2 separate regions of the Homo sapiens genome follow, and region 1 is linked to region 2. The links come from fine-mapping of genetic effects on gene expression. A gene starts in region 2. The other region holds a variant in brackets. All regions are shown on one strand. Distances are from middle to middle. Region 1 overlaps EBF4 (EBF family member 4). Region 2 holds the start of EBF4 (EBF family member 4).

What was found. PIP is the estimated chance that this variant, and not a neighbour inherited with it, causes the effect.
Region 1: its variant is fine-mapped to the expression of EBF4 in whole blood (TOPMed, PIP above 0.99).

What each region holds. Positions count from the first base shown.
Region 1 is chr20:2,733,258-2,748,331 of GRCh38, forward strand. The region is part of intron 6 of EBF4 (EBF family member 4); the gene reads left to right. Among named protein-coding and RNA genes, the nearest start is that of EBF4, 48 kb to the left of the region's middle. RefSeq lists an enhancer at 5,305-5,886 and a silencer at 10,039-10,088. The variant A/G (reference allele first, on the strand shown) is at 8,461.
Region 2 is chr20:2,684,208-2,699,281 of GRCh38, forward strand. EBF4 (EBF family member 4) reads left to right here and starts at 8,573. Exons shown (of 17, transcript NM_001395167.1): 1 at 8,573-9,575. The coding sequence starts at 9,439. It overlaps LOC105372507 (a long non-coding RNA gene), which reads right to left and starts at 8,413. Exons shown (of 3, transcript XR_937210.3): 1 at 7,859-8,413; 2 at 7,133-7,257. RefSeq lists enhancers at 9,744-10,728, 13,202-13,745.

The DNA.
Region 1 (15,074 bases), 49 kb after region 2:
TTATGTGGTGATCTTATTAAGGATTCCTTATATATGACGAGTTACTTCTCTCTCTCTCTCATTGCTTCTCAGATCCTTTCTTTTTCTTTGGCTTTCAAAAGTTTGAGTATGATGTGTCTTTGTATAGATCATACACTTTGTGTTCATACTACTTGGAGTTTACTGAGCTTCTTAAGATGTGCTCAATAATGTTTTTCATTACTGAGCACATTTAGGAAATTTAGGGGCATTTTCTTGAATATTTTTCTGTCCTGTTCCATCTCTACTCTCCTTCTCAGATTCCCATTATACATATACTGGTATGCTTGATGGCTCCCACAGGTCTCTTAAGCTCTGTTCATTTTTCTTCATTCTTTTTTCTTTCTGCTTCTGAGCTAGATAATCTCAATTGGCCTATATTCAAGTATACTGATTTTTTTTCGTCCCACCAAATGAGATATGTTGTTGAGTTCCTCTAGGTCAGGGGTGTCCAATCTTTTGGCTTCCGTGGGCCATATTGGAAGAAGACTTGTCTTGAGCCACACATAAAATACATTAATACTAGCGATAGCTGATGAGAAAAAAAAAAAAAAAGCAAAAACATCTCATAATAAGAAAGTTTACAAATTTGCAGGCTAATTCAAAGCCAACCTGGGCTGCATGTGCCCCGTGGGTCGCAGGTTAGAGAAGCTTGTTCCAGGTATTTTTAAATTTTACTTATTGTTCTTTTCTACTTCAGAATTTCATGGGTTTTTAAAAATATAATTTGAAATCCTTTATTGATTTTTTTGGTGTGACTTCATTCTCATACTTTTCTTGAATTTTTTAGACATAGTTTCCTTTAGTTCTATGAACATATTTATAATTGCTCATTTAAAGTCTTTATCTATGCCAGCTGCAGTGGCTCACTCCTATAATCCCAGCATTTTGGTAGGCAGAGAAGGGCAGATTGCTTGAGCCTAGGAGTTTGAGACCAGCCTGGGCAACATGGTGAAACCCTGTCTCTACAAAAACCTACAAAAATTAGCTGGGCATGGTGGCTCATACCTGTAGTCCCAGCTACTTGGGAACTAAGGTGGGAGGATCACTTGAACCTGGGAGGTCAAGGCTTCAGTGAGCCATGATCACACCACTGCACTTCAGCCTGGGCAACAGAGCAAGACCCTGTTCCAAAAATAAATTAATTAATAAAGTATTTGTCTAAAAATTCTAACCTCTGGGCTTCCTCAGGGATAGTTCCTGTTGGCTGCTTTATTACAATGTATGGGTCTTACTTTCCTGTACCTTGCATGTCTCATAATTGTTTGTTGAAAACTGGACATTTTAATCATATAATGTTGCACTCTGGCAATCAGATCCTCCCTCCCAATTTTGTTCTTATTGCTATTGCTGTTTGTTTGTTTAGTGATTTTCTTGGACTAATTATATAAAGTCTATATTTCCTGTCATGTATAATCACTGAAGTTTCTGCTCTTGGCTTAGTTATCAGGCCATGATTGGACAGGCATTTCTTTAAATGCCTTGAATGCCAATAAGTGTTCAACCCATTGCCAAAAGGTTCTGTATGTGTGTTAAGACATGCCTTCAGTGCTCCAGCGATTTACAACTCTGCCTTGACCTTCACTTCCTGCTTGCTCAGGGCCTTGGGATAAACCAGAGGTGAGAGACCAGGGGCTTTCCATGCCTTTTTTGGGCATGTGCCTCTCCCTGCACATATGCATAGCTTTCTAGATCTCCAGGAATATGTCAGAGCTTTTCAGAGCCCCTGTGAACATCTTATTCCCCACTTTTTCCTTTAAAATATTATGGCCAAACTTTTATTTGCCCCCAACTTGTATTGCTGCCTCATGTAGCTGCAATGTTAAGCAATTGCCGCTGGCTGTTTTCAACAAACACCCTGAAGATAGGGTCTTTCCCACTAAGTAAGTTCTGAATCGGGTCAAATAACAAGTTCTGCAAATAAAGCTGTCAGGGAGTTGCTAGAAAGGTTAAAGAGTGAAAACTGACTGGGAATACAGCTTGTTGAGAGGCTCCAAACCCACTCTACCCCTTCCTATGGTTGCTAGCTTGCTAGTTTTCACAACTACAATAGTGGTTGCAAGGTAGCTGGTCTTCAACAGGGCTGGGGAGTAGGGGATGGGAATAGGGCAAATTAAAACACCACAAAGCTTTCTGTTCTTATTACAACTCAGCCATTTTTCTTGCCTCAATGTTCCTTGAGTTGTTGCACACATGTTGTTAATTTTTAGAGTTCTGAGAAAGTTGATTTTGACCATGTTTGCCAGTGTTCTTGTTTCTTTATGGAAGAATGGATTTTCAGAGGTCTTTACTTAGCAATTCCCAAAGTCCTGTCCCTGTAATTGTTATTTCTTACCTGGGCACAAGTTAAAAGTGCCTTGGGGGCTTTAGTCCAGCATTCATCCAGTCACAGTAATTTTTGACTCTTGAATTCTATCATGAATCAATCAGCACCTGTTGTGGGGCTGGGACTATGATGGATGCTTGGGAGAAGAGAGGCTTAAACAATGATCCCTGCCCTCTGAGAGCTTACAGAGCAGTTGAGGAGACAAATATAATTATGTAAACAACAATTTATAATTTTGAAAAAAATTCGTGTACTTGAAGAAAGGTCAGTAGAGATTATCTATAATTACATAATAATAAGAAGAAATAGAAAACAATGTAAGGCTTGAAGACCACACTATCCAATAGTACTTTCTGCAATGATGAAAATATTCTGTACCAACCAATATGGTAGCCAATAGCCACACATATTTATTGGGCACTTGAACTGTAGCTACCGTGACTGAGGAATTGAATATTTAATTGTGTTTAATTTAAATCAAATTTAAGAAATAACACATGGTTACTGTATCTGACATCACAGCTCTAAGACTTTAAATATTTGCTTGATTGGCCAGGATGACCCTGTGGCAGGGGTAGGGAAACATACCCTCCCATGGGAGGCTCATAGCTCTTCTCTGGCTCCTAGGGATAGATAGAAGCTGGGGGCTATGGATACTCCCTGGCATTTAATTGTGCCTGCTGCCTGGTGGGTGTTGTTCAGTGACACTATTGGAATAGTTTAGGTCCGAGCCACCTGGCAAAGGTAAGCTCTGGTCTACTCTATTGGGGGCAAATTTAGACCCTAGATCAGGCACATTATAAGTGCAATTAGATGAAAGGGGCTGTGGGAACTGCAAAAGAATCAGCCCCCTTCCTAATCCACTGGTCAATGCAACATTCCCTGTTTTCCTCTACAGCCACAAAACTAGCCCAATGTCATCCATCTCCTTCCACGCTTTCCAGCAGGATCTCCCACACTCATGCTGCAAGCACAGACTTCTGTCCAGATCCATTCTGGCAATCCCCCTTGAGGTTCCAGAACCTCCCTGCTGGGTCAGTGCTGAGGTGAGACTAAGGTTTCCCTCTTGCCACCTGAATGCACTGCACTTCCTTCCCCATTCCCCCCAACCCCCACCACTCTTTTCAGAGCTGAGAGCATTTGAGAGAGGGAGAAGCAGAGGGGGTTCAAGAGAGATTCGCTCATGTGCTCCGAAGGTCATATAGGCTGAGATGCCAGTCATAAGGACAAAGGACCCCTAATGAAGAGGAAGGACTTATGAGGAGACCTCTGGGCAGCCGAAGCCAAGCTTAGGGCCAGACTGGCCTCCATGCTGAGACAGGAGCAGAGATTTGGACAGTGCCTCCATAGAAAATTGGGGGAAGAGGACCGGGCGCGGTGGCTCACGCTTGTAATCCCAGCACTTTGGGAGGCCAAGGTGGGCAGATCACAAGGTCAGGAGATGGAGACCATCCTGGCTAACACGGTGAAACCCCGTCTCTACTAAAAATACCAAAAAATTAGCCGGGCGTGGTGGCGGGCGCCTGTAGTCCCAGCTACTCGGGAGGCTGAGGCAGGAGAATGGCGTGAACCCGGGAGGCGGAGCTTGCAGTGAGCCGAGATCGCGCCACTGCACTCCAGCTTGGGTAACAGGAGCGAAACTCCGTCTCAAAAAAAAAAAAAAAGAAAAGAAAAGAAGATTGGGGGAAGAGGGGGACCGCAGGCATGAGGCAGCCTGGGAACCATAATAGGTGGAGTGGAGGCGGCTAGTGAGTGAACCGCCTGCAACTTGAATAATAAGCTTTCTCCACAAAGTGGAGAGTTATTGAGGGCTGGGGACTCAAGCCAACCTGGGATGTCTGGCTATGTAACTGGGAGCAAGTTCTCACCTCCCAGAGCTTCAGTTCCCTAATGTGTAAAATAGAGCTGACCAATGAGCCTCCTGTGATTCTGGGAAGGAGAGGATGCTGTGGAGTTAGTAGGATGTATTCATGCAGTGCCCAGCACAGTGACTGCCTCAGAGTCATTTCTTACCCTCCTGCCACCCCACCCTTACCGATCATCTTAGAGTAAGTGCAGCTGAGCCTGGACGGCAGCAAGAAAGTTCAGGCCGGGCGCAGTGGCTCACACCTGTAATCCCAGCACTTTGGGAGGCCGAGGTGGGCGGATCACTTAAGGTCGGGACTTTGAGACCAGCCTGGCCAACATGGTGAAACCCCGTCTCTACTAAAAATGTGAAAAAAAAAAAAAAAATGGCACCTGTAGTCCCAGCTACTCAGGAGGCTGAGGCAGGAGAATCACTTGAACCCAGGAGGCAGAGGTTGCAGTGAGCCGAGATCGCGCCATTGCACTCCAGCCTGGGCAACAGAGCGAGACTCCATTTCAAAAAAAAAAAAAAAAGTTCAGTGGGAACCAAGGAGGAACGTCCTGCCTCCAGAACCAGAGCCCACAGTCAGGGGTAGACATCCCAGGCTGGGGATGGGTCTTTCTCTGAATAGGAAGGGGGACATTCTCACTTAATCTTCTGTCTGTTCTCTCTGCCCTGGGTGCTTGGTGAATTGTAGAAGATGCCAGGCCTTGCTAATACCCGCTACCCACCTCTCACCTGATTCATAGATAAGAGGTGCCAAGGTCTCTGGTCTTAGAGCCTGGGTCTCATCTACACCACCACCTCTGCCCAAGGCCAGAGGAACCCACAACTTCTTTCCTTCAGACTCCCACCTTCTCCTTTAAATCTCTTTCTGACTTGCAAGCACCCCTTCCAGCTCTGTGGCTTCTGCTGCCGTCCATGCCCCATCCCCCCTCCTCCCTCCTTTTTCTCTATCTCTCCTTCTCTTCTGTTCGTGGACTCTGATAGCCTGCATTGACAGAAGACTCCCCAGGCTTGAGAGGACTTGTGTGGGTGCATGTGTACATCTGTGTCCACACAGGCACACCATGGTGACCATGCACCAGCCCCTTCCTGCCGCTGCATGTGGCATGCCCAGAGGCCTCCCATTAGTGGCCACTCCACCCTTCCTCCTCTCCCCTCAGGCCTGGTTTGGGGAAAGTGGAGCCACTGCCACTCTTGGTGGGCAGCTGGGGGCCCCTTAGCAGTCTCTCCACACCCCCTCCCCTTCTCCTCAGGCCCCATGCCCAGCCCTGAGGTTTGGAGAGCCTAGTAAGTGCCCTATCAACATGTTAATCAAATTACTTAGGAGCTAAAATTGACGCTGTTCATTAATTATACAAGATTATGCTAATTGTGCATGCAAATGCATGCAGGGGAACAGAAGGTGTTCAGGCGCATGGTGGGCCATTAGCATAGAGGATGGGGTGCGGGTGCATTGGCATGCTAATGTATGCGCCCTGGCTATTTATAGTCCTCCAGCCCATCTGCACTGCAGCCACCTCTACCCGGGTGGGGATCATGGTGGGGAGGCCAGGTCCAGGCCTGGCAGGTGGCTGTGGCCCTGGGGACAGTCTATCTTGGCTTCTACCGCAGGCTAAGACCAGGAAGCAGCCTGGGCCAACCCCACATGGGCCTGAACTATTACAGTAAGCTCCTCATTTCCCTTCCCTTCTCTAGCGTAGGCCCTTTGGTGCCTGTTTCTGCCTGAAGGGAGACATCCCCTGTAGCCTTCCCATCACCCAGAGGATCCAAGTCCCGCATGATTTGGTCCCAACCCCAGGCCCCAAGCCACGCTGCCCTCCTCAGTCTTGTCAGGCACCACTGATCGAGTGAGCCGTCTGCCCCGTGGTGGAGCTGTTAGTCCCTTTGCATGGAGGGCCCTGCCTCCTACTTCTCGGTGAGATCCTCCAAGACCCATCACCCAAGACCAAATTGGAGCTCTAGGAAGCATTCCGCCTCCCCTAGGCAAAATAAGTGGCCACTGCAGATTACACTTGGCACATCCTCCTGCCGTGCCCACCACTCTGTCTTCCTGAGTTTCTCTTTCCTGTTGGGTTGTAATTTCCTTAAGATTTTATACAATGCCGCAGTGCCTAACACATAGAAGGTATTTAATAAATCTTTTTAAGTGGGTGTATGGAATGAATGAGGGGATGAATGGCCCAGCCCTCTGTGTCCTCCTCTGTCCCTGAGCTGAGGGTAGAGAGAAGCAGACAGTGAACACGCTGGAGAGCCAGAAACTGCTTCAGTTTCTTCGGAGGCTCATGGGAGCCCAAGACAAATCTTTTAGGATAAAAATTAGCGGAGATCCCTGTCCCCTTATTTCCCCATCTCAGGCTGCAGTGCCAGCTTTGGGCTTGGAAACACATATCCAATTTAATCTACCCTTCACTCTTAACCTGCTGTCTTTCCCAAGGCCTTCACAGGACACACTGTTGTTTGGAACATCCTGCCCCAGCTCGTATATCCATTCACTGCATACCTTCTTTCTAGATCTGCACTGTCCAATATGGTAGTCTCGAGCCACATGTGACTATTTAGATTTATGTTCATTAAAATGGCTGGGCGCAGTGGCCCACGCCTGTAATTCCAGCACTTTGGGAGGCCAAGGCGGGTGGATCACCAGAGGTCAGGAGTTCATGACCAGCCTGACCAATATGGTGAAACGCTGTCTCTACTAAAAATACAAAAATTAGCTGGGCATGGTGGCAGTCGCCTTTAGTCCCAGCTACTCAGGAGGCTGAGGCGGGAGAATCGCTTGAACCCAGGAGGTGGAGGTTGCAGTGAGCCGAGATCACGCCACTGCACTCCAGCCTGGGCAACAGAGCGAGACTCCGTTTCAAAAAAAAAATAGATTTATGTTAATTAAAATGAAATAAAATTCAGTTCCTCAGTTGCACTAGCCACATTTCCAGTGCTTAGTAGCCATGCGTGGCTAATGCATATCATTCTGGAAAAAGTTCCCTTAGGGAGCACTGTAATCTAGACACGTTCTTCCTTGCCCCTGACAGACCTGTAGTGGAAAATGCACTCGGGCTCTCCTTCCAGCTCTTTGAGTTACTGACAGCTTTCTCTTTGGAAGTGAGAACATAATTTCAGCCCTAAGTATCTCATGGGGATGCAGGGAAGAAAAAGCTGGTGAAAAGCCTTAGCTCTGTGACCTAAGTTTTCTTAGGGTGGGATTCCTGGAAGCAGAGCCTGAGATGGGGATTCTTGTGAAAGAGGTTTATCAAAGGAGAGCTCTCAGGAGAAAAGGAATGAGTATAGAGGGAGTTTAACAAGGAGGTGGTCTCGGTCGGAGTCTAGCGTCAGCCTATCCCATGCAGAGGTCTGGAGTGTGAATGGCCAGAGAGTTGGTCCTCCTTGTAATGTCAATCTGTCATTGGCTGTGGGCTACTGGTGGGGAGTATATGCTCTTGGCTGAGGGTAATTCTCAGATTACCTTGGGGCAGCTGCGAGCCATTTGACAGTCTACACTGCAGCTGGGGCATGAGGGAATCAGGCAGGCATCAACTCACTGTAAAGTTCCTGGACGTTGTCTTCCAAAAGAAGCTCCAGGCCAGGCATGGTGGCTCATGCCTGTAATCTCAGCATTTTGGGAGGCTGAATCAGAAGGATCGCCTGAGCCCAGGAGTTTGAGACCAGCCTGGGCAACGTACTGAGACCTCCGTCTCTACAAAAAATAAACAAAATTAGCTGAGCATGGTAGTGTGACCTGTAGTCCCACCTGCTCAGGAGGCTGAGGTGAGAGGATCACTTAAGCCTGGGAGGTCAAGGCTGCAGTGAGCCAAGATCACACCACTGCACTCCAGTCTGGGTGACAGAGCGAGACCCTGACTGAAAAAAAAAAGCAGCTCCATCCCACTCTGCCTTCTACCCCCTGAAAACCTAGAATTTAACAGTGGACTCACATCAATTGCCTTCACACTTGCCTTCTCTACTGAGTGTCTCTTTTGAGTAAAGCACTGTGCTTGGGGAGTTAATGCAATGGTGTCACCCCTGAGAAGTAGTGTATAAGTTAAATGTTTGCACTTTAGCCATACTCAACCCAGAGTTTGCTTCTTTGGTAGGAAATACTCCATGGACAAGACGTTTCTTTTCATTTCATCTTGAGCTGTTTTTATGGGGAGGAATAAAAAGCGTTTATAGACATGATTACGAAGGCTAAACCAAGTTCAGGATGTGGTAAGGTGGGTGTGTGGGTGAACTACTCTGAGCTTTCCTTTAAGTCACAGGCATCAGAGTC[A/G]TGATGCATAACTACCATCCTTTAGATACTTCATTAGTTGGATGACCACTGTTCACAGCTCTTCTTCTGGTCTTTCATTAAAGTTTTTATTGAGAATGTGGAATACAGGCAGAATGGAATAATGAAGCCCATATAGCCCCAATGAGCTAGAACAATTTTTAACTATTGGTTCCATTGTTTTTTAATACTGAAGATCTTCTCGACTGATAGCAGCAGTCACAACAGCCAAAAGCCCAAAACTAGGAGCAAGAGGACCTGAGTTTGACCTCTGCAACCCTGTTGAATTTGTAACCTCGAGGAAATCCCCACAACATACTATCCTGGTCCCCACACAGCCTGCCTCTCAGAGCTGCTTTTGAAGGCAGGCTTGCCGCTGCAGTACCAGCCTGGGTCGGACTCTGAGAGCCCCACTTAGAAGGACTTCTAGGACTCTTGTCGGCATCAGTGGTTCATAAAGACCCGTTTTCATATCCTTACTTTAGCATTGACTGTGACTTTGTCAAGTCACAGTCAATAGCTTAGCCTTGGTTTTCTCATCCGTAAAGTGGGAATGGTTGCAGACCGACACGACCTGGGGGATTGAGCAAGATAATGCCAAAGTGACAAACTCAGCAGCGTTCTGGGCAGTTGCTAAGGTGCTGAGTGCCTGATGGGTTAGACCTGGTTCCCTGTTTTTCTTTTTTTGTTGTTTGTTTGTTTGTTTTGTTTTTGCATAGTTACCTCCCTAATGCATTTCATTTGTAAGTCATGCTTGTATTTATGGTGTTTTCTTCCAGTAATCCTAATGGAAGCTTCTGCGACTTGGCCTTTCCCTTACTCCCTTTTCTGTGGGGTCTGGATTAGGAAGCCATGCCCTCCAAGAGCCTCATGGCCACAGTGGGATGGCACTGGGCACTGGTCCTGCAGTGGTCACCCTCCATGGGGATCCTCAGGTCAGAGAGGGCTGTGGACTTGGGCTCACTTTACTCCTCCCCACTCCCTGCCCCCTGCCCCCATCCTGGTCAGGAAAAACGGGCTTTCCTAGACTCCTTTTCAGCCCCATAGGGCCAGGAGTGGGGAGGGGTGCTCAGAGAACACCCCCAGGCTCATCCAAGCTTTAGAGGTGGGGGGTGGTTCCATGCTGACAAGCAGGGCTTCAAGCCCCTCAACAAAGTGCACATCCCTTCCTGCCTCAAGTCCCTACAGGGTGTCCCAGGCCCAGAACCTTGTCCTCACTTACCCAGCCCCTTCCCAGGCTCTCTTCTTTCAAGGGGAACACCTGCCCGCAGTTCCCATGTCCACATGTGTTCCATGTGTGTGTCTCCCTCCAACTCCCCTGCCCACCAGGTCTCTCACTCTCCCCCAGTCCCCAGCCCCCACATCTGGCCTCTGTGCAGACATGGCTTGGAGGACCTGCTGCCCCTCCTTCTTCTTCCCTGACTCCATTCTCATCCTTCCCTGACTGCTCAGGTGGAATAAAGTGTCACCCCCTGGGCGTCAGCCAAGGGAGAATTCTCCTGGGTTGTTCTCACGTTCGCCCTTCCAGCCTCTGCGGTGTGTCTGTCTCCCCCTGGTGGGCAAGGAGAGGACCAGGCAGCGGCACCCGGAGGGTCGGCAGTCTCTCTAGGTCCAGGGGAGAGCCCGGGCACTGCTCCTGGTTCTAGACCCCAACGGAAGTCCTCTAATTCCAGGTCCAGCCTTGGAAGGCAGGAGCCTTTAGGGGCGGGTCACCTTTGCCAAAGCACAGTCTTCAAAATGTCAAAAGCGTGATTCTCATACAAATTGCTACTGAGCATGTATCAAAGTTTTCTATAACTTATTGATGAGGGAACCAATGGGATGACAAAGCTGATTCAAAGAAGACGAAGAGAAAGTGATACATGTGCGAGTGTGTGAGTGCGTGCGTATATGGAAAGGGGTTGAGGGGAGGGAGGGAGAGGCAAGGGATTGTGTGGAAAATACTGGAATAAGATGGCCAAATTAGATATAAAGCTAGTTAATGTCCATAGGACAATTTTATCATCTTTAGGGCTAATTTCTCCACCAAACAGAAATTATTTACTTCTCCTGACAAATATCATTTGTTTCCAAGTCATATGAATTTGGGGGCGGGGAGTATAAATTCACAGGGTACAAGTGAAAGTATACAATGTGTGGTGATCCAATCCAGATATTTAGGGTGTCCATCACACAGGTACAATACATTTTGGCTAAGTATAGTCACCCCACTCTGCTATCAAACATCAAGTTTATTCCTTCTATCTTGCTATTTGTACCCTATAACCCACTTCTCTTCTCCCTGCCCCCCAACTCACCCTTCCCAGTCTTTATTATCTGTCTTTCCATGCTCTACCTCCAGGTCATCAAAGTTTTTATTTATTTTTTTTATTTTTTTTTTTTTGAGACGAAGTCTCACTCTTGTCCCCCAGGCTGGAGTGCAATGGCGTGATCTCAGCTCACTGCAACCTCCGCCTCCCGGGTTCAAGTGATTCTCCTGCCTCAGCCTCCCGAGTAGCTGGGATTACAGGCGCCTGCCACCACGCCCGGCTAATTTTTATATCAGGTCATCAAAATTTTTAGCTCCCACTGACAAATATCATTTGTATCTTATCAGTTTTCTACAAATTAGCACTTAACTTTATAGTCTGTGCTCCAATCAATCAATAGTAAATGCGAGTCACTTTCCCCTAGAGACATACACTCCAGTGAAGCATTGTCCGATATTAATATAATGCAAGCAAGCCACATATGTATGTAAATATGCTTTTTTCTTTTCTTTTTTCTTTTTTTCTTTTCTTTTTTTTTTTTTTTTTGAGACAGGGTCTCACTCTGTCACCCAGGCTGGAGTGTAGTGGCTCAACCTTGGCTCACTGCAACCTCCACCTCCCCCGTTCAAGCAATTCTCGTGCCTCAGCCACCTGAGTAGCTGGGACTACAGGCATGCACCACCTCACCCAGCTAATTTCTATATTTTTAATAGAGATGGAGTTTCGCAGCATTGGGCAGGCTAGTCTCAAACTCCTGGCCTCAAGCGATCCACCCACCTCAGCCTCCCAAAATGCTGGGATTACAGGCACGAGCCACTGAGCAAGGCCTCAAGTCACATATGTAATGTTAAATTTTCCAGTAGCCACAAGAAACTGATACAACTAATTATCATAATGCATTTTATTTAACCCAATATATCTAAAAGATGAGCATTCCCACATGAAATCAACATAAAAGATTACTGATGAATTATTTTATATTCTTTTTTTCTAAGTCTTGGAAATCTGATGTGTGTTTTACACTTACAGCACATCTCAAGTTCGGACTAGCCACACTGCAAGGGTTCATGCCGCGTGGGGCTGGTGGCTATAGTAATGGGTAGCGCAGCTCCAGTGCGGTAGTTCTCAAACTTCAGGGTGAACCAGCATCACCTGGAGGGCGTATGAATGCAGAGATGTGATTCTGACTCAGCAGGTCTGAGGGGAGGCCTGAGATTCTACACTTGTAGCAAGGTCTCAGGTGACGCTGACGCTGCTGGTCTTAGGGGGTGGTGCAGGCTCTCTGACTGGGAGAAGCCTCGTGGACTACCAGCTGGAAGGGAGTGAGGTTTCAGCCACACCATGGATGGTTTCGACTATGTGCTAGCTCTGAGGACAGGCCCAAAGGGAAGGGAGAAGGGGACTGACCCTCAGCCCCCACTGCAGGCCATGGTCTTGTGCAGCTGCTTTTACTCACCCACACTCTGCAGGTAATGCTAGCCAGGCTCAAACACTGAGGTGTCCCCATAGACAGAGGTGCTGGCAGGTCCCTAGGGCTCTCAGAAAGGGGTGGTCCTTGAAACCTAGAGTGGCCAGAAAATGGTGGCTGTACAGGGCGTGAGAATTGGTGTGGACCCAAAGGACAAATGAAACCTGTACTGTAAAGGGACAGTGGCAAGACCTGCTGAGCAAAGGCTTGGGGAAGGGCCAGTGAGGGAGCAGGAAACCACAGCCTTGGGGAGGGCAGAAGTAAAGGATGTCCCAGAGGCAGGACTAGAAGGTGTCACGGCAGCCGTCAATCGCTACTCTCCCTTCATGGGTGTGGAAGGATTTACCTACCCCGGGTCATGCAGAGAGTCCAGGCCTGGCCAGAGCCCCTATCTTGGCCCCTTCCCAAGGACCCTTCCTCTTGATCCTGTAGGTTTGAGTGGAGTGGGGTGCAGTGGGCACATGTGTCATCTTTTGGTGCAGTCCTATGCTTGTCGCATCTTCAGTGGTATCCAAAGGTGAGCCTTCAATCCCTTTAGGACAGAGACCATGCCCCATCCTGGTGTTTTTCCCTCCATCTAGCACCTGCCAAAGGACCGAGCACACGAGTACTTAATTTAAATGAGCTGGTCTGCCTGTGTGTGTGAGTAGGGAGTCTATACTCTGTCACATGTGAATGTGGGGCATGGATGAGGAACATGTCGCACATGTGGGTGTAGTGTGTTTACACCATGGGGTGTCATAAGGGGTGTAGGGAGTGATTAGTAACTAATAAGAGAGAAATGGAGTGCGCCCACTGTGCAGGTGTACCTCTCAGGAGCACTGAAGGTGTCTGCACCTTGGGGTGACCCATAGGGATATATATGGCATCTACACATTGGTGACTACTGTTTGGGGGCATAACAGCTGTCTGCACTGCAGGGTATCCTGCAGGGGTAAATGGATTGTCTACACTGTAGGGGTGCACCATTTGGGAAATATAGGGGGTGCCCACTGTGGGGGAACATGACAAGTGCTGAGAATGTAGACAGAGGCAGGACCCCAGGGAGAGGTATCTCTAGGAAGGTGACTGCCACCAGCTCCCAAGGAGGGGCTGCCTGCTGGGGACACCTCAGTTCCAGGGCTGGTGCTTACTCCTCCCAGCACTTGGTGACCTCCTTTTTGGGGACTGGGCTTTCAGGACCTGTAACAAATTTTCCTCTGAACAGAAATTTAATGTTTGCAGACTTTGGAGGCAACTCTGGTGAATTAAATGAACATTCAAATTTGGGGTATATAAGTAGTACATGAGTAACTATACCGTGGTTAAAGTTCCACCCCAGGTTTGGGACTCTTGTATTTGCTTTAGTAAATAGTATGGTAAAAATATCTCCCAATTGGGTGGAGGTAAAATGAGGAAGCTGACTGACTGGAGAAACTCATACAGTGGCCCAGGAGGCTGTTCCACATATCAGGACCTACTGCAGACGTTAGCCCTGCACTCTACAGTTTGTAAAGGGTATCTTCCCAGATGCTCACAGAGTGCTATAAGGCATAAGGCAGACACTGATCATATTCCGAGTTTACCAAGAGTTAAACAGGGCTGGGTGCAGTGGCTCATGCCTGTAATCCCAACACTTTGGGAGGCCGAGGTGGGTGAATCACCTGAGGTCAGGAATCGAGACCAGCCTGGCCAACATGGCAAAACACCGTCTCTACTAAAACTACAAAAAGTAGCCAGGCGTGGTGGCAGGCCCCTGTGATCCCCCTGTAATCCCCTGTAACTCGGGAAGCCAAGGGCTGAGGCAGGGACAATTGCTTGAACCCAGGAGGTGGAGGTTGCAGTGAGACATGGCGAGCCTGGGCAACAGAGCAAGACTCTGTCTCAAAACAAAAAACAAAACAAACAAAAAAAAAAAAACAGGAAAAAAAAGAGTACAACAGCCAGAATGTTGTCCATGGCTACCTTACTGGTAGGTGACAGGACCAAGGACCCACCCTCCCAGCCAACTGCCAGGAAGGAGAGGAGGACAAAGTGCTCATGTGTTTGTCTAAAAAGCAACCTCATCAGCGCATATGTGTTTTTTTCCCAATAACTCTATGTAAAAAAGAAGACATTCACGGTGTCTCTGTACCACATGTCTGACAGATACACCATGTGTATATGGTGGGTATGTGCTCTGTATGATTAAGCTTTTCCTATGTGTATAATGGATATAAAATGTGTGGGAGGAGGATATGCCATGTGGGAGGTGAATTTGCTGGGGGCATCTGCTATATGGGATGGCTTTACAGTATTTGCAATAACTATATTTTGGGTAATCATTTACAACATAAAATGCGTATTAATGTATTTGTTCTGTGTATTTCCTATTTCTCTGTGCATATACTGTGTAGGGTGGGCATACACCGTGCATGATGGGTACAGGCTCTGTGTCTGCTTAGTATGCCATATGTGTGGGATGAGTGCAGGCTATATGTGGAGTACATGTTGTTTATGCTTGTGTGAAGGTTATACCCCGAGTGTGTGTGATGGCTGTATTTTGTGAGTAATAGTATCCAAGGCATAAACAGTGTCTACAAAGAATGTGCTGTGTCTGAGGAGTGTACATGGTGTGGGTGATGGGTATACTCTGGGGAGGGATGTGTTGTATAACAGATGTGCTATATGGGTGATGAGCATATACTGTGACGTATACACAGTGTGTGATAACATTACATGGGGTATGTGTGCGTACACGCCACATACGGAGCATATATTGTATGTGTGATGGGTATACAGTGCGTTGGGTATAATGAGTAATAAGTATAGGTAGTGTATATAATGGACTTACTCTTCATGGTGAATATATACTGTGTGGGAGTGCTAAGTATACACTTTGTGGCATAAATAAGCCCTGTGTGATCAGCACACGGTGTGTA
Region 2 (15,074 bases):
CATCACTGGTCATTAGAGAAATGCAAATCAAAACCACAATGAGATACTATCTCACACCAGTTAGAATGGCAATCATTAAAAAGTCAGGAAACAACAGATGCTGGAGAGGATGTGGAGAAATAGGAACACTTTTACACTGTTGGTGGGACTGTCAACTAGTTCGACCATTGTGGAAGTCAGTGTGGCAATTCCTCAGGGATCTAGAACTAGAAATACCATTTGACCCAGCAATTCTATTACTGGGTATATACCCAAAGGAATATAAATCATGCTGCTATAAAGACATATGCATGGGTATGTTTATTGCGGCACTATTCACAACAGCAAAGACTTGGAACCAACCCAAATGTCCAACAATGACAGACTGGATTAAGAAAATGTGGCATATATACACTATGGAATACTATGCAGCCATAAAAAAATGATGAGTTCATGTCCTTTGTAGGGACATGGATGAAGCTGGAAACCATCATTCTCAGCAAACTATCGCAAGGACAAAAAACCAAACACCACATGTTCTCACTCATAGGTGGAAATTGAACAATGAGAACACATGGACACAGGAAGGGGAACATCACACCCCGGGGCCTGTTGTGGGGTGGGGGGAGGGATAGCATTAGGAGATATACCTAATGTAAATGACAAGTTCATGGGTGCAGCACACCAACATGGCACATGTATACATATGTAACAAACCTGCACGTTGTGCACATGTACCCTAGAACTTAAAGTATAATAAAAAAAAAAAAAAGAGGAAGCTGTTAACCACTTACGGTTGCATCACTTGGCCACCAGCACCTCAGGCTTATCCATGAAGTAACTACAGCTGAGAATAAGTCAGTAACTTGCCTACTGAGTTCAGGTCTCCAGACCCCAAGTCCGGTGTTCTTTCCACCACATGGCACATTCCAAGGACCTCGCTCCCCCAGGCCAAGCAGCCATTGAAGGTTAAGGAAAGAGAGAGCTTAAGACCTCTCTCCCCAACACCAGGAATAGGCCTGGGTGACACAGCAGAGTAGGGATAGGTGACAAGGGATAGGTGTGGGGGGCTCTTTTTATTTTTATTTTTTAAGACAGAGTCTCGCTCTGTCACCCAGGCTATAGTGCAGTGGCGCAATATGGGCTCACTGCAACTTTCACTTCCCAGGTTCAAGCAATTCTCCTGCCTCAGCCTCCTGAGTAGCTGGAACTACAGGTGCGTGCCACCACACCCAGCTAATTTTTTGTATTTTTAGTAGAAACAGGGTTTCACCATGTTGGCCAGGCTGACCTCAGGTGATCCACCTGCCTTGGCCTCTCAAAGTGGTGGGATTACAGGCATGAGCTACCGCGCCCGGCTGGGAGCTCATCTCTTTGGGGCACCCTGTGGGACCCCACATAGGCAATCCATCATGAGTTTCTGACCTCTACCTCCCAGACAAGTATTCATCCACAAATATTTATCCTTCAAGGACTATTCACAGCACTATGGATACAGAAAAGAAGAAAAGAATCAAACATCTTCATCTGTAAGAGCTACAGGCCAGTAAATGATAGCACTTTTCTATTAAGAAACGCATCCCTCCCCACTGAACTTGTTTTAGTTTAGGTCTTCATTATCTCTTACCTGAACTGTTCCTACCCAACTCCAGGTCCCACCAGAAGATCTAGATTTTGGGAGACCTGAAGCTTATACAATTGGAGGAGTAACTCCTTAAGAAGAATACAAAATTATGAATACACAATTATATGTAACCATGTGAACCTGTCACGAGGAATATTCGAGGGTCCTTGGAAGGGGCCGGTGTAGATGAAAGCCTGAAGATTAAGCCTCATGGAGAATCAGCCTCTGCCAAGTCCTCTCCCCACTTCACCCGGGACAAGGGGAAAAATAGCTCCCTCCTGCCTACCCTATATTCCCCTCACCCCCTACCCCTACCGCACCCTGCTCTACCTCAAGGATAATAGTTTCCTTTCTTCTAGACCCCCACTCCCCCACCCTCCTCCTACCTCCCCAGCAATTTGGGTTTTTGTTTTTGTTTTTTGAGACAGTCTCATTCTGTTGCGCAGGCTGGAGTGCAGTGGCACGATTGGCTCACTGTAACAGCCTCTTCCTCCTGGGTTCAAGCACTTCTCATGCTTTTTTTTTTTTTAAATATTATGCTCTTGCTTTTTTGCTTTTAATGTAATAGTTTAAGTATAAATATTTGTCCCTAGTATCTATTTGGAAAATGAAATAAGCTGCTTAATGTCTCCAACAAAGACAGTTATATATCTTTCCCACTTCCACAGGAAAACCCAAGGTGCTGAACGCCCAGAATAGCAACCTTACACAGGTATAGTGTTCAAAAGTTTGTAAAATTGTTTTCCTCGTGTTTAATTTTATTTCACCTTCACAACTGTGTGCTATCATTCTCATTTGATGGGAAACTGAGGCTCAGTATAAGTTTACAAATCCAGTGAGTGGCAGAGATGGGATTCTGACTTAAGTTCAGCATTTTAGGAAACTCAAGGCAGGCGCGGTGGCTCATGCCTGTAATCCCAGCACTTTGGGAGGCCAGGGTGGGTGGATCGCCTGAGGTCAGAAGGTGGGGACCAGCCTGGCCAACATGGCGAAACCCCGTCTCTACTAAAAATACAAAAATTAGCCAGGCGTGGTGGCCCACTCCTATAATCCCAGCTACTCGGGAGGCTGAGGAAGGAGAATCACTTGAACCCGGGAGGTGGAGGTTGCAGTGACCCTAGCTCGTGCCACTGCACTCCAGCCTGCGCGACGGGAGCGAGACTCCATCTCAAAAAAAAAAAAAAAAAAGAGACTCAAACGTGATCTAGAATAAACGCACCTACTGCCAACCGGATGTTGGGTCAAGTGAGAATGAAGACAATGTAGCCATAGTACTGAAGTTCAATTTACGCCAGTGGCGAGACATTGATTTAAACCAAGTAACTTGAACTCAGGTTTGCTCCCCATGTACTTGGAATTTAACTGCGCTGAGCTTTTACTTATTTATTTCAAGTACTCTATAGTAGTTCTGAGCCCCTGCCTCCTGTGTTGCTGGGACTAGAGGCACATGCCACTGCACCCGGATAATTTTTGTTTTCTTTGTATTGTTTTTGTTTCATTTTGTTTGTTTTTTTCAGTAGAAGCGGGTTTTTGCCATGTTGGCTGGGCTGGTCTCGATCTCCTGGCCTCAAATGATCCACCCTCCTTGGCCTCCCAAAGTGCTGGGATTACAGGCGTGAGCCACCGCGCCTGGCCCTCCCCAACAATTTGAAAATGAATTTGATCTTGCCCCACCGGTAAATATATATATATATGTGTGTGTGTGTGTGTGTATATAATATTTCAAAATTGTTGCCATTGCCTATGAGTAGCTAAGGGGCAGCCGTCAGGGATAGTGTTGGGTGCTGCTGCAGTTTTAGGTTTGAGACTGCAGGGAACAGCCGTGCTCTGCAAAATAGCAGGGAGTGGGCATAGCTTGCTGCACTGGGAAAACGGTCCCCTTCCTCTTCCTCAATGGGCATTGAGACCGGGTGTCTTTGAAGTGGTTTGTGATTGGCAGGTGTGTGAACAACCAGGACCAATGATCCCAGAGCCTGGGGATAGGAGCTCGACTCTCCTGCCAAAGGGTCCACCACGATAGCTCCTATTGTTTTATTATTCAAGATTGAATAACTGGGCCTAGATGTGGGATGGAATGGATCCTAAGGCAAGACTAATACTTGTGGTGTGGGGTTTTCTTGAAGCAATTGAAGAGGCCTCAGGAATCAACAGCGAGGAAGGCCCAGAGCTGGCGCATACCTACCAGACCACCTTCTTGGATGGCCCTTGTCATTCTGGATTTCTTCATGGAACTATGAGAATTGCCATAATTAATGCGCGCTTTAGTTTTTGTATTCCTCCTTTCATTTTAATTACCATCGGGGATCTGACAGGAAGTGGATCCAAGTGCCGGCATCACACTCTGGGGCCTCCGGGGGGCGCTATGGCCCAACACACAGCGTGGCCAAGCGCGCCTCAGCCTAACTCACCACTTCCTATCTGTTTTATACGGTTTGCACCCGCTTAAGGCGGCGGAGGCGTGGGGGAGTTCTGCTGATGTAAAAAAAAAAAACATTGTTTTATGACTAGACCTACAGAAAAAATGTCCAAACTCCTTAGCATGGCATGTTAGGCACCAGCATGACCCTCCCGGTGCTGGGTGCTAAAACCTCCACCTTGAAGGAAGTGCAGCAAACCCATTCATTCCGCTCTGCTAGTCCTTACACAAGCTGCTCCCGGGCCCCTCCTCACCTTCAGGCTCAGGCCCTTTTTCTGTGCTTGTCCCAGGACTTGCTCCGCTTCTGTAACAGCCCAGGTCACTCCAGAGTGACATTGAGCATTCATGAGTCTCCTGCCACCTGACTGTGAGCTCATAAGGGCGCCACCTGGGTTTCATTATCTGCTCACTCTCTAGCACTGGCCACTCACAAAAAAGCCCTTCTCGTGGACATGAGCACAATGAAAGGGTAGAATGAGACCCAAGGCTCTGGCCTAAGGGTTTGTGGTGAGCCCCTGCCAGAAAAGAGTGGCATTCTCTGCAGGCGTGCACCACGCTTCCTCTGTCATCACCACCCCTGTAGCTCTCTGTGGCCACAGTTGGAGCACTTCGCCCCACCCCACCCACCAAATTCCTTTCTCATGGAGAAGATGCAGCAGTTGGAACGGGACAATATACAAAGGAACTAAGATAAATAATGCATGGCCGGCACAGTGGCTCACACCTATAATCCCAGCACTTTGGGAGGCCAAGGCATGAGGATCACTTGAGGCCAAGAGTTCGAGACCAGCCTGGGCAACATAGCAAGACCTCTGTCTCAAAAAAAAAAAATATATATTAGCCAGGCATGGTGGTGCACACCTGCAATCCCAGCTACTTGAGAGGCTAAGGAGGGAGGACTTGAGCCCAGGAGTTTGAGGATGCAGTGAGCTATTATCGCGCGACTGCACTCCAGCCTGGGTGACAGGGTGAGACCCTGACTCTAAAAAAATAAATAAATAAAAGGTTAAAAAATAAGATAACTAATGCAAAATAAAAGCGCACAGAGGGTTCCAAGAAACAACAGACTTTCACCTGGATCTAAAGCAGAGACACTCACCTCTGACCCCCAAGTGCTGCCCCAGAACTGCTCATTGACCTTCCTCCCTTCATCACCCCTTGGTTCAGCAGCTCTAACCCAGGAGCCCTTCTCTGGGGCTGCAGGCTCTGGGAAGCCTCAAACACCATCCTGGCTGGTTTTCTGTTCCATGTGGTTAGGATAGAACAGAAACCCACGCAAGTTGGGAGTCTGCCCCAGCTATGACTGAGCCTTAACTCAGTGCCACTTTCCTGGGCTGACTGATTCCACCTTCTGCGCAGGTTAATTCTGAGCATCTATCCCCCAATCTATCTTGGGGACAACCTTCCAGAATGAAAAGCACTCCAACCAAATCACTTCAACCATCACAAAAAGGAATGCTGCAAAGTGAGGGCATTCCGGCAGGAAGGGCCAGCCAGCATGAAGGCTGGAGCTGGGAGACAGGGAGCTGGGTTTGGGAAACGGTGTGATCTCCCATGCTGGATAAGCAAGAAACTCACACAGCAAGGGAGTGGAGGTAAGGCTGGCCGGCAAGAGAAATTGGATAGGGCATCAAAGGGCCTAGAATGTTCCCAAACTAAGGGCCTAAATGTTTATTTGAGAAGCCACAAAAGACATTTAAGTTTCTAAGCAGGCGATGGCCCAATCCAAGCAACACTTTTTAAAACTGTGGCAGGAGGATGGGGGTGTTTGGGGGTGAGCAGCTGGGGACGGGAGCTAAGGGAGGAGGCTGTGGGCAGAACTGGGAATTCCATATCTGCTCCAAGCCAGGGTGGAGTCCAGTGGAGGAAAAGTACGTTTTGCTGTTAGATATTCTCTGTGGGCACTGGGGTAGGGAGGAAAGGGAAGGGGGACCCGTTAAGACCAAACAAACAGGTAGCTGCAGGACAGGGAGAGAAAAGTATTGGAGATGATTCCCAAACTCCAAGCCTGGTGGGCAGCAGGAGGAGGTGCCCAGCACAGACACAGGGGAGTCAGGAAGAAGAGCTGGCTGGTGGAGAGTGAACCTGTGGAGACCAAGAAGCCCCATCCCAGCCTAGGGACAGAGCCTCTTGGGATAGGGACCCTCCCCGGAGGCAGGTGCTCCTCTCCTCTCTGAGGGCCAAGCCCAGCCCTGTCCTCACCCACTGATGTTCAGGACTGACAGAAGTGAGAGTCCCATATGGGGAGACCATTTCCTCAAAGATGTTCTCTGAGACTGTGGAGGAACGTGAATTCTGTGAGGGGAGAACAGAAGAAGAGCGCCAGGCACAGCAGCTTGAGGTGCTCAGAGGGCAGAGGAGAAAGACAGTGTGCTCTGGTCATCAGGGCAGTTTCCCAGGTGTGTGTAAATATATATACACCAGATATATATATTTCCCAGGTGTGTGTAAATACATACACATGCATATATATATGTGTATATATATATATATATATATATCTGGTCACCAGGGTGGTTTCCCGTGTGTGTGGGGTTGGGGGGTGGGGTAGCCCACTGCTGCCAGGAGGTCCCAGGCCCTGAAGCCCAAGAGAGACCACGGAGTCTGAGAGCAGAAGCAGGAAGGCAGGGCTGGAAGGGAGCCAGCACACAAGGGCCCCAGGAGTGGCTTGCTGGGGGCCAGTCAGGCATCCTTGGCAGAGCGTTCCTGTGAACGGTCTCAGACACAGGAGGGGCAGAAATTGAAGAAGGAGGCGAGGAGGAGGGGACAGTTCTTTTAAGAATGGGGAGATCTGAGCAGAGAAAAGAACATATTGAGACACAAACAGGAGATCGGTGGGGTAATCTCAGGAAAGGCAGAAGACAGGACTAAGCAAAAAGGTTCCACATCCATCTCCACAGTGGAAGACCGAGAGAAGAGAACGGGTGAAAAGACAGAAACGAGGAGGAGCATACGCCGCTGATGGTGCCAGCAGGGTTCTGCCAAGATTCCCTGAGTCCTCTCCACTGGGTAAGAGGAAGGGTGTCTGCTGGAAATGAGAGAGCCAGAGGTGGGTCTGAATGTTGGGGAGAGGAGTGGAGCAAGTGTGGAACAGCTCTGGGGGGGCTTCTCACATGTAATGTGTGTACAGGTCTTGGTAAATTGCAGGTTCCGATTCAGCAGGTCCCGGCAGGGCCTAAGAGTCTGGATTCCTCACCAGCTCCCAGGTGATGTCAATGCTGCTGGTCCGGGGACCACACTGTGAGAAGCAAGATTTAGAGAGGCAGATCAGGAGATGGAGAAAGAGACTGGCTTAAGAATTGTCTTAAGGAGAAACCCATGTTTGATAATCCCACCTAGGGTAAAAGCTGAGACCTGAAGGAGTCCTGGTGGGAATGGCAGCCCCCTGTGGGTGATGGGGAGAGGCATAGAGAGAAGGGGTGGTAAAGAGACCAGGAAAGGAGGTGAGAGGGCCTCTGTGATGGCAGGAGAACCAGCAGTGCCCCCAGGACGCCTCATCTGGGCCAATGTGTGACAGAACGCTAACTCACACTTGGAGGCCCCCCAGAAGAGGATGGGAGTGAGTTGGAGCAGGAAGGTGTTATTGCAGGGGTGTCTGAGCGTGAACATGGCAGGCAGGGCAGGTGGCCCCCATGCTGTTCTGCAGGAAAGTGCTGGACTCAGTCTGGGCTTGCTCGAAGCCTGGCCAGGACAACGTGGGGAGAGGGGCAGAAATGTCTCTGCCCCACGGTCAAGGGCCAGACGACTTCTGTGCCAGGAACTAATAAAAAAAAAGGAATGGGATCTGAGACGGGACGCGGCTGGGGAGAAACAGGAGGTGAGCTGGGCTCTGAGCCTACCTGTCCAACTCGCAATCAGAAATCAGGAGGTTCCTGAAAGGCACAGATGGAAACTGAAAATGCTTTAGGCTTAGGTAACCCAGCATCAGGAATCGGGATGGTTGGATGCAGGGACCTCGCCCAGCTTGTCTGGGGCCGCAGCCTACGGCAGGGACGTTTCAGTCCTTAGCTGGGGTGAAAGTGAGGTCAGGGTCGCCGGGGAAATGCGGGAGTACAGTCACGCGGGAGAAAGACGTCAAGAGCGAAAGCTCGGAGGCGTCAAAATGAGCAGCAAGTCCAGGCACAAGGCGTCGGGCGCGGAGAGTACGGCGGGTGCCGGGGGAGGGAGATGAGGCCGCGAAGACGCCGGGGCTTCGTCCGGCGGCGACGGGGAGGCCGCGGAGGTTCCCGAGCGCAGCGGGGCGCGCACCTCCCGCTCGGGCCGGGCTCCCTCGCCGCGCGGCCCCGGATCCTCCCTGCGCGGGTTTCCGTGGCCCCCGCCGGGCTCTTCCGTTCCCTCCCGCGGCCTCGACCAGGCCGCAGCCCCCAGCCCAGGCGACCGACTCGCCAGGGTCCGCCCCGCCGCCGCGGCCCGGGCCCGGCCGCTCCTCCCCCGATGATGTCACGTCCCCGGCCGCCCCTCGGCCGGCCGCGCCGCCCCGCCCCCGCCTCCCCCGGGCCCCCGTCCCCTGGGCCCGCCCGCTCCCGACATCCCTCCTCCCGCCTGCGCTCCCTCCCTTCGGCTACCGCTCCCCCGGGAGCGGCGGCGGCGGCGGCGGCGGCGGCGGGATGGCCCGGGCCCGAGGCCAGGCCCCGGGGAGCGGCGGGCGGCGGCGGCCGCGGCGGGGCGGCGCGGGAACCGGGCCCCGGGGGGAGTCGGCCGGGCTGCTGCTGCTGCTGCTCCAGGTGCTGCCGCCCGGGGCTACGGCAGGGCCGGGACGCCGGGGCACGCGGGGCGCTGGCGCTGGCGGCGGCGGCGTCTGCTGGCCCGGCGCGGCCCCAGCCTTTCCCCGGGACGCGCGGCTGCTGCTGCTCCTGCCGCCGCTGCCGCCACTGTCGCCGCCGCCGCCGAGCTCCGCGCCCGCAGCCTCCGCCTCCCGGATGGTAATCAGCGCCCCGCGCTGGCGCCGCGGGCGGGCGGGCGGGCGGGAGGTGGGGGCGGCGAGGGGGAAAGGGCGGGCGGCCCCGCGCCCCCGCCTTGCCCGAGGCAGCTCCCGGGGCGCTCGGGCCCCCCCTCCGACGACCGCGGCCCCGGGCAGCCGCCAGAGCGCGCCTCTGGGGCGCCTCCGCGCGGACCGGGTGCGGGCTCCGCTCCCCGCCCTCCCCGCCCCGCTCGCAGTCCGCCCGCCAGCGCTCAGGCCGCGGGGGAATCCCTCCATCTCCCCGCCCAGCGCCCCAGGAGGGGAGGGGACAGCGCCGGCGCCCGCGGACCCGCTTTCTCCGAGGGAGCGCCCAAGAGGCGAGCGCGCACTGAGCCACCCGGACTCGGCGCTGCGCTGCTGGAGGCGCCTGGTGCCGTCGGGTCGGGCTGAGCTAGACGCCCGCAGCCTCAGCGGGACCGGATCCGGGGCGGCGGGGGCGCTCACTCACCGCGCGCCCTCATGTTCCCTGCGCAGGACGCTCTGCCCCGCAGCGGGCTGAACCTGAAGGAGGAGCCGCTGCTGCCCGCCGGCCTGGGCTCAGTGCGCTCCTGGATGCAGGGCGCGGGCATCCTGGACGCCAGCACCGCGGCGCAGAGGTAAGCGCTCGGACCGGACCCGGTGCGCTCGGGTTGGACGGCTGCGCGCCGCCTCAGCTCAGCTTGCTGGAGCTGCTGGAGCCAGGGGCGGAAGGAGCCCTAACTCTGGACGGTCCCGGCGAGCTCCCCGGCCCACCCCGTCCGGAGTGCCTGTGCTGCCTCCTGAGGCTGTGGGGCGGGCTGGGGCGGGGCTTCTGCCTCCACTCCGGGCTGCCCCGGTAGATTTCTGACGGCCGCTCGCGGGTGCGGCGGTGAACGCCACCCCAGCCGGGCTGTCTATGGCTCTGAGAGAAGAGGCAGAGCTCCCAGCCATGACCCACAGCCACCGGCCGTCTAGGAACGTCCAGCCCCTCCTTCCTGGGCAGTCCCAGTGACTCTCCTTGTCCAATTCCGCAGCTCTCTGTCAGGAAAGGCACGAAACCCAGCCCCCTTTTTCCTTTCCCACGCCCCTCAGAGTTGGCGGATGGGGGTGTGCAGAGCCAGAGAAGCGGCTGGGGGCTGGACGGTGGCGAAGAGATGAGGTGGGCAGTCGGCCTGGCTGGACTGATTGGCCTGGGAACTGGGCAGGGCCCCTGCCTTTCCCTCGGGTGTTTTTCTGGTAGGTCCTTTGGAAGGCAGAGAGTCCCTGGGAACCCAGCACCCGCGCCGGTCTCCTCTGACTCCTTTGCAGGGGTCTGGGAGTCTCAGTAGGGGGTTGACTCCAGGATTTGAAAGCGAACTTTAAAAGTTTATTGACCTGCCCCCAAAGCCCCTGCACCCCCTGGCTTTTTGCACCTTCAGCTGTGACCATGGAGGGAGGCATTTAGGTATCCTATGGGGAGTCACAGTGGTTAGGATTAGGGAGGTGCCAGCTCTGCTGACAGCTGGGACAGGGTGGGCACTTGGCTTCCCAGAAGTCTGAGCTGTTGCAGCAGCCCGAAGGGATTCTGAATGGGGGGCTTAATGCAGACCGGGCCTGACACAGGAGCCCACATTCACACTCCGCAGGACGCCTCAACCTCACCGTGTAACAGACACACACCGCGCTTCATGTGCAAACTGAAGCCGTTTCTGCACGCCGGTCCTTTCCTGGCTGTCGGGAGGGAACGCTGGGGGGCTCTGGAGCTGATCTCTTACGGAAGAGAAAGGGTCTTGTGGATGAATTAATTTCCAAAACTTTTACAAGGGATATAGCTATATTCTAGAAAAATTGGAAAATAAAAAATTTAGTCCCTCCTCTGTAATACAACTACTGTCAACATTTTAGTGTATTTCCTTCCTATTTTTCTTCCCATTAACTTGTGTTTTCCTGTGCTATGCTTACAATTCCACCTCCTGCCTATTCTTCTGTTGGTTCTGGCTTTTTTTTTTTTCAACTTGAGAAGGTTAGTTTCTTAACATGGCCCCCTCTTTGGCCCCACCACCTGCTGTGTGGCGAGAGCTCTTTGTAAGAGTGGGTGAGGAGTGCTGATGGGGGCCTCTGGGAGTTAAGGTTCCATTTCTCTGCAACCTTTCCCTCTGTGCCTACCCAGAGGCAGGTCTGATGAAGGGGAAGCAGACGTGAAGGAGGCAGTGCCCTTGGAGACTGCGTGGGGTTCAAGAAGTGTGGGGATAAGGCTTCCCCCAGAGCATGGGCCACAGCAGTGGTGTCTGCGCATAGTGGGGTTGAGTGGGCTTGGGGTGTCCAGTCTGACTCCCCACATTGTGAGGGCCACATTGCTGGGATGCAGAGGGCTTCCGCAATGTGAACAGGGGCTTTCTTCAGGCTCGGTCTGCTAATCCCCAAGTGTGGAGACTTCTCTGTCTCAGGACATAGACTAGGAGCCCCCACTCGCTTTGTTGTTCAGCTGACTTTCCTCCCTGTCCCAGAGGGAGCTGCCTCATCCTTCCTCCCCACTCTTCCCCGTGTTGTCTGTCATCACTACAGTTGTATCTGGTTCCTCAGTCAGTCCTCTGCACGGGTCTTCTCATCCCAAAACAGCAACAATGAAAATTCCTCCCCCTGGCCCTGCCTCCGCCTTCATCACGGCCTGGTTTCTCTCCCTCTCATCTCTGAGAAACTTTCACGGAAGTGCTCTCCCAAAAGACTCCCTGGGATCCGAGAGTTGGCTTTGACACCTTCCTCAGCCTCACCCCACAGTTGCCTGATTGTCAAGGCTTAGGAATGTTCTTTTCCGTGTCCTAGTCCCAATCTCAGTGCCCTCAGCCACCACTTTTAGCAATGAAACCCCCTGGCCCTCCACCCGCTTCCTCCCTGGCTTGAAGGTTAACTGCACCCTGGTTACCACCTCAGCCTCCTGGCCCAGTGCCTAGCCCCAGCCATTCACCACTCCCCTAAAACCATCTTCCCTGCATTGGGGACCAAAGCAGTATTTCCAAAGTACTTTTTTAAGATCATGTCTCTCTCCGATTACAAATAAAGTGACCAGGCTGGGCGCGGTGGCTCACGCCTGTAATTCCAGCACTTTGGGAGGCCAAGGTGGGCGTTTCACTTGAGGCCAGGAGTTCGAGACCAGCCTAGCCAACATGGTGAAACCCTGTCTCTACTAATAATACAAAAATTAGCTGGGCGTGGTGAAGCATGCTTGTAGTGCCAGCTACTTGGGAGGCTGAGGTGGGAGGATTGCTTGAGCCCGGGAGGCAGAGGCTTCGGTGAGCCAAGATCGCACCACTGTACTCCAGCCTGGGCGGCAGAGTGAAACTGTGCCTCAAAAATAAATAAGTAAATAAATAAAATAAAATAAAATAAAGTGACCAACCCCCAAGCCCCACTGCTTCCTCATGGATATCTCCAACATTCAAGGCCTATCATGGTCTGACTCCAGCCTTCCTCCCCAGCCTCCTCTGCATGATGCTTGGCAGGCAGTGGATACTTGGAGAATTAGCTGCGCCTCCAGTAAGTGCTATGGTCTATTGAAACAATCCCTCTGCCCTCAGCACCCGCACATCCCCTGGATTAAGTCTCACCAGCCTCAGGACTCCCTCTTACACCCACCGACCCCAGCAACTGCTCTTTCTGTGCCCTCCCACCCTGCCCACGGGAGTGGCTTTAATGCTGCCTACGAATGCTTACCATAGGCCAGCATCTGCTCTCCTCTGCCTGTCCCGGTCCTCCTTGCCCTGCCAGCTGGGGCCTTCCCCTAAGGCAAGGGTAGCGGTCCGTTCATCCTTGTGTCCACAGCACCCAGGGCAGGCTCAGGCAGTCCATGGGGGATGGGGGTGATGACTGTCTGCCGGAGGAAGCAGTAATGTTTCTCAGAGGCTCCCAAGTCCCCTTATATTGGTTCCCCTCTTGACTTTGGAAGACTCCAGGTTCTACCTGACCCAGGAATCAGCTACTGGAGCAGCTTCTCCTGCCCAGTTCTACAGCTTGACTTTTACAACAATGCCAAGATTTTACAGAAGGTGGGTGGGGAGGAAAAGGCCCAGAAGGCCTGCTAAGATCAGCGAGGGAGGCTCTGCCAACAGGAAGGAAAGTTCTGAGCAAAAGAGGGGTAGGGAGGGCCGGGTGCGATGGCTCACGCCTGTAATCCCAGCACTTTGGGAGGCCGAGGCAGGCAGATCACGAGGTCAGGAGATCGAGACCATCCTGGCTAACACGGTGAAACCCCGTCTCTACTAAAAATACAAAAAATTAGCCGGGCGTGGTGGCGGGCGCCTGTAGTCCCAGCTACTCAGGAGGCTGAGGCAGGAGAATGGCGTGAACCCGGGAGGCGGAGCTTGCAGTGAGCCGAGATCGCGCCACTGCACTCCAGCCTGGGTGACAGAGCGAGACTCTGTCTCAAAAAAAAAAAGAAAGAAAGAAAAAGGGGGTAGGGAGAGCAGAGGGGCTGCATACCCTTAAACTGGAGGCAATGGGGATGGGAACGCTGGTGGAGAGGGCTGCCCTCTCCCTACCAATGTCTTCCTACCAGGGAAGTCTGCACAAGGACCCCCTGCCCCTGCCCTGAGCCAACAGGACGTTATCTCTGAGATCCATTTGCCCAGCCCCAGCCCATCTTCCCCTGACTCCCCTGAAGACTCAAGTCCTCCTGCTGGCACACTCAGCACAGAAGTAGCTCTCTTCTCCTTCTGATGTGCTTCCCAGTCTGGGGAGACCTCTGGAAGGCCCAGGCCAGACCTCCCCCTGGAGCTGATCCCTGCACACTAGCAGGGCCCCGGAGAGGGAGGCCAGCTGGGGCTGCCTTTCCTGTAAGCAGCTGCAGGCTAGCATCCCTGCTAGGAAATGCTTTTGTTTGCTTTAATAATTCATAGCCGATTCTCAGCCTGGGACCTGGCAGGCAGGCCTGTGGGTGGGTGGCGAGAGGGTGGGCAGAGAGCAGTGGAGTGGGGAGTCTTTAGGTAGAATTGAGGGCCAAAAGAAGAGGGGGAGAGCAGGCCTGTGAGATTCTTCCCCCTCCCTTTCCCCTGCCCTCAGGGACTTTGGTCACTGTGCCAATTTCCTGGGGCAGGTGAGCAGGGCAGCTGCTGGGGGCAGTGGGAAGAGGGGATAGGGACCCTCCCCAGACCCAAACCTCATCTCCAGCAGGACCAACTGGACACAGGCTCTGGGCAGCTGCCTGCAGCCACCAGGTCCTCCCTGTGCAAGCATTGTTGAGGTGGGTGTGCCCCACTGGGCTACTGCTTTTATCTTCCCCAGTCTGCACCATGGCCAGGGGCTGGCATGTCAGGGGCTGGGCAGGGCCAGGCCAATAGATCTTGTCTGGGGCAGGAGGGCCAGGCCCAGCTTGATCATCATCAGCAGTCCCGGGGTCCAGAGGGTGCCTGCAGGGGAGAGCAGGGGCCAATGGGATGCTTGGAGGAAGGGGGGATGTAGAGGAAAGGGACTGGTGGAGCCCTGTCAGGATGGGGCTAAGAAGAGCTGGACTTAGCAGAGAGAGACTTTGGGGAAATCTGCGAAAAGGGATGAGATGCAGGAGTTTTTGCTCCCTCCACTTCCTGGGGTGATGGGTGTCAACAAAGAGCCTCCCCCCATTACTGATGAAAGTAGGGCTTGTCCCCCGTAGCCCTAGCATCCCAGACTCAAAGACAAATTAGGACCAGGGCAAGGCACGGCTCAAAACCTTGAGTTATCAAGGCAGCCAGGAGTTAGGTTTTGGTGGGGAGAAGGGAAGGCAAGACGCCTGGGGGTGCCTCTGAGAGGAGGCCGAGGCTCCAGCCTTGGTCACTTGTCCTCTGTGGGATTTGAGCTGGCTGTGGTTAAATTGCTTACTATAACAAGCATGCAGTCAAGGATGTGAAGAGCCGTGAGTGGCCTTGGGAAGAGAGAACAGAGACTGTGAGGGGGGCTTTGTCTGTACCAGACAGTTATGCTGTGGCAGGGGAGAGCAGCTGCCGCGAAAAGGGCCCTGGAGTGTCCTGCTCAGCCTTGCAAAGGAGCATCTCCCGGGACCTGCTGGGCAGCCCCAGCAATAGCAGTCAGACACCTCTGCAGCTGCTGGCATCTCCCCACAGGCATCTGCATACACTCTGGAGCACAGTCCACCTGAATGACCTAGTCTGTGAAGGTCAGGTTGCCCT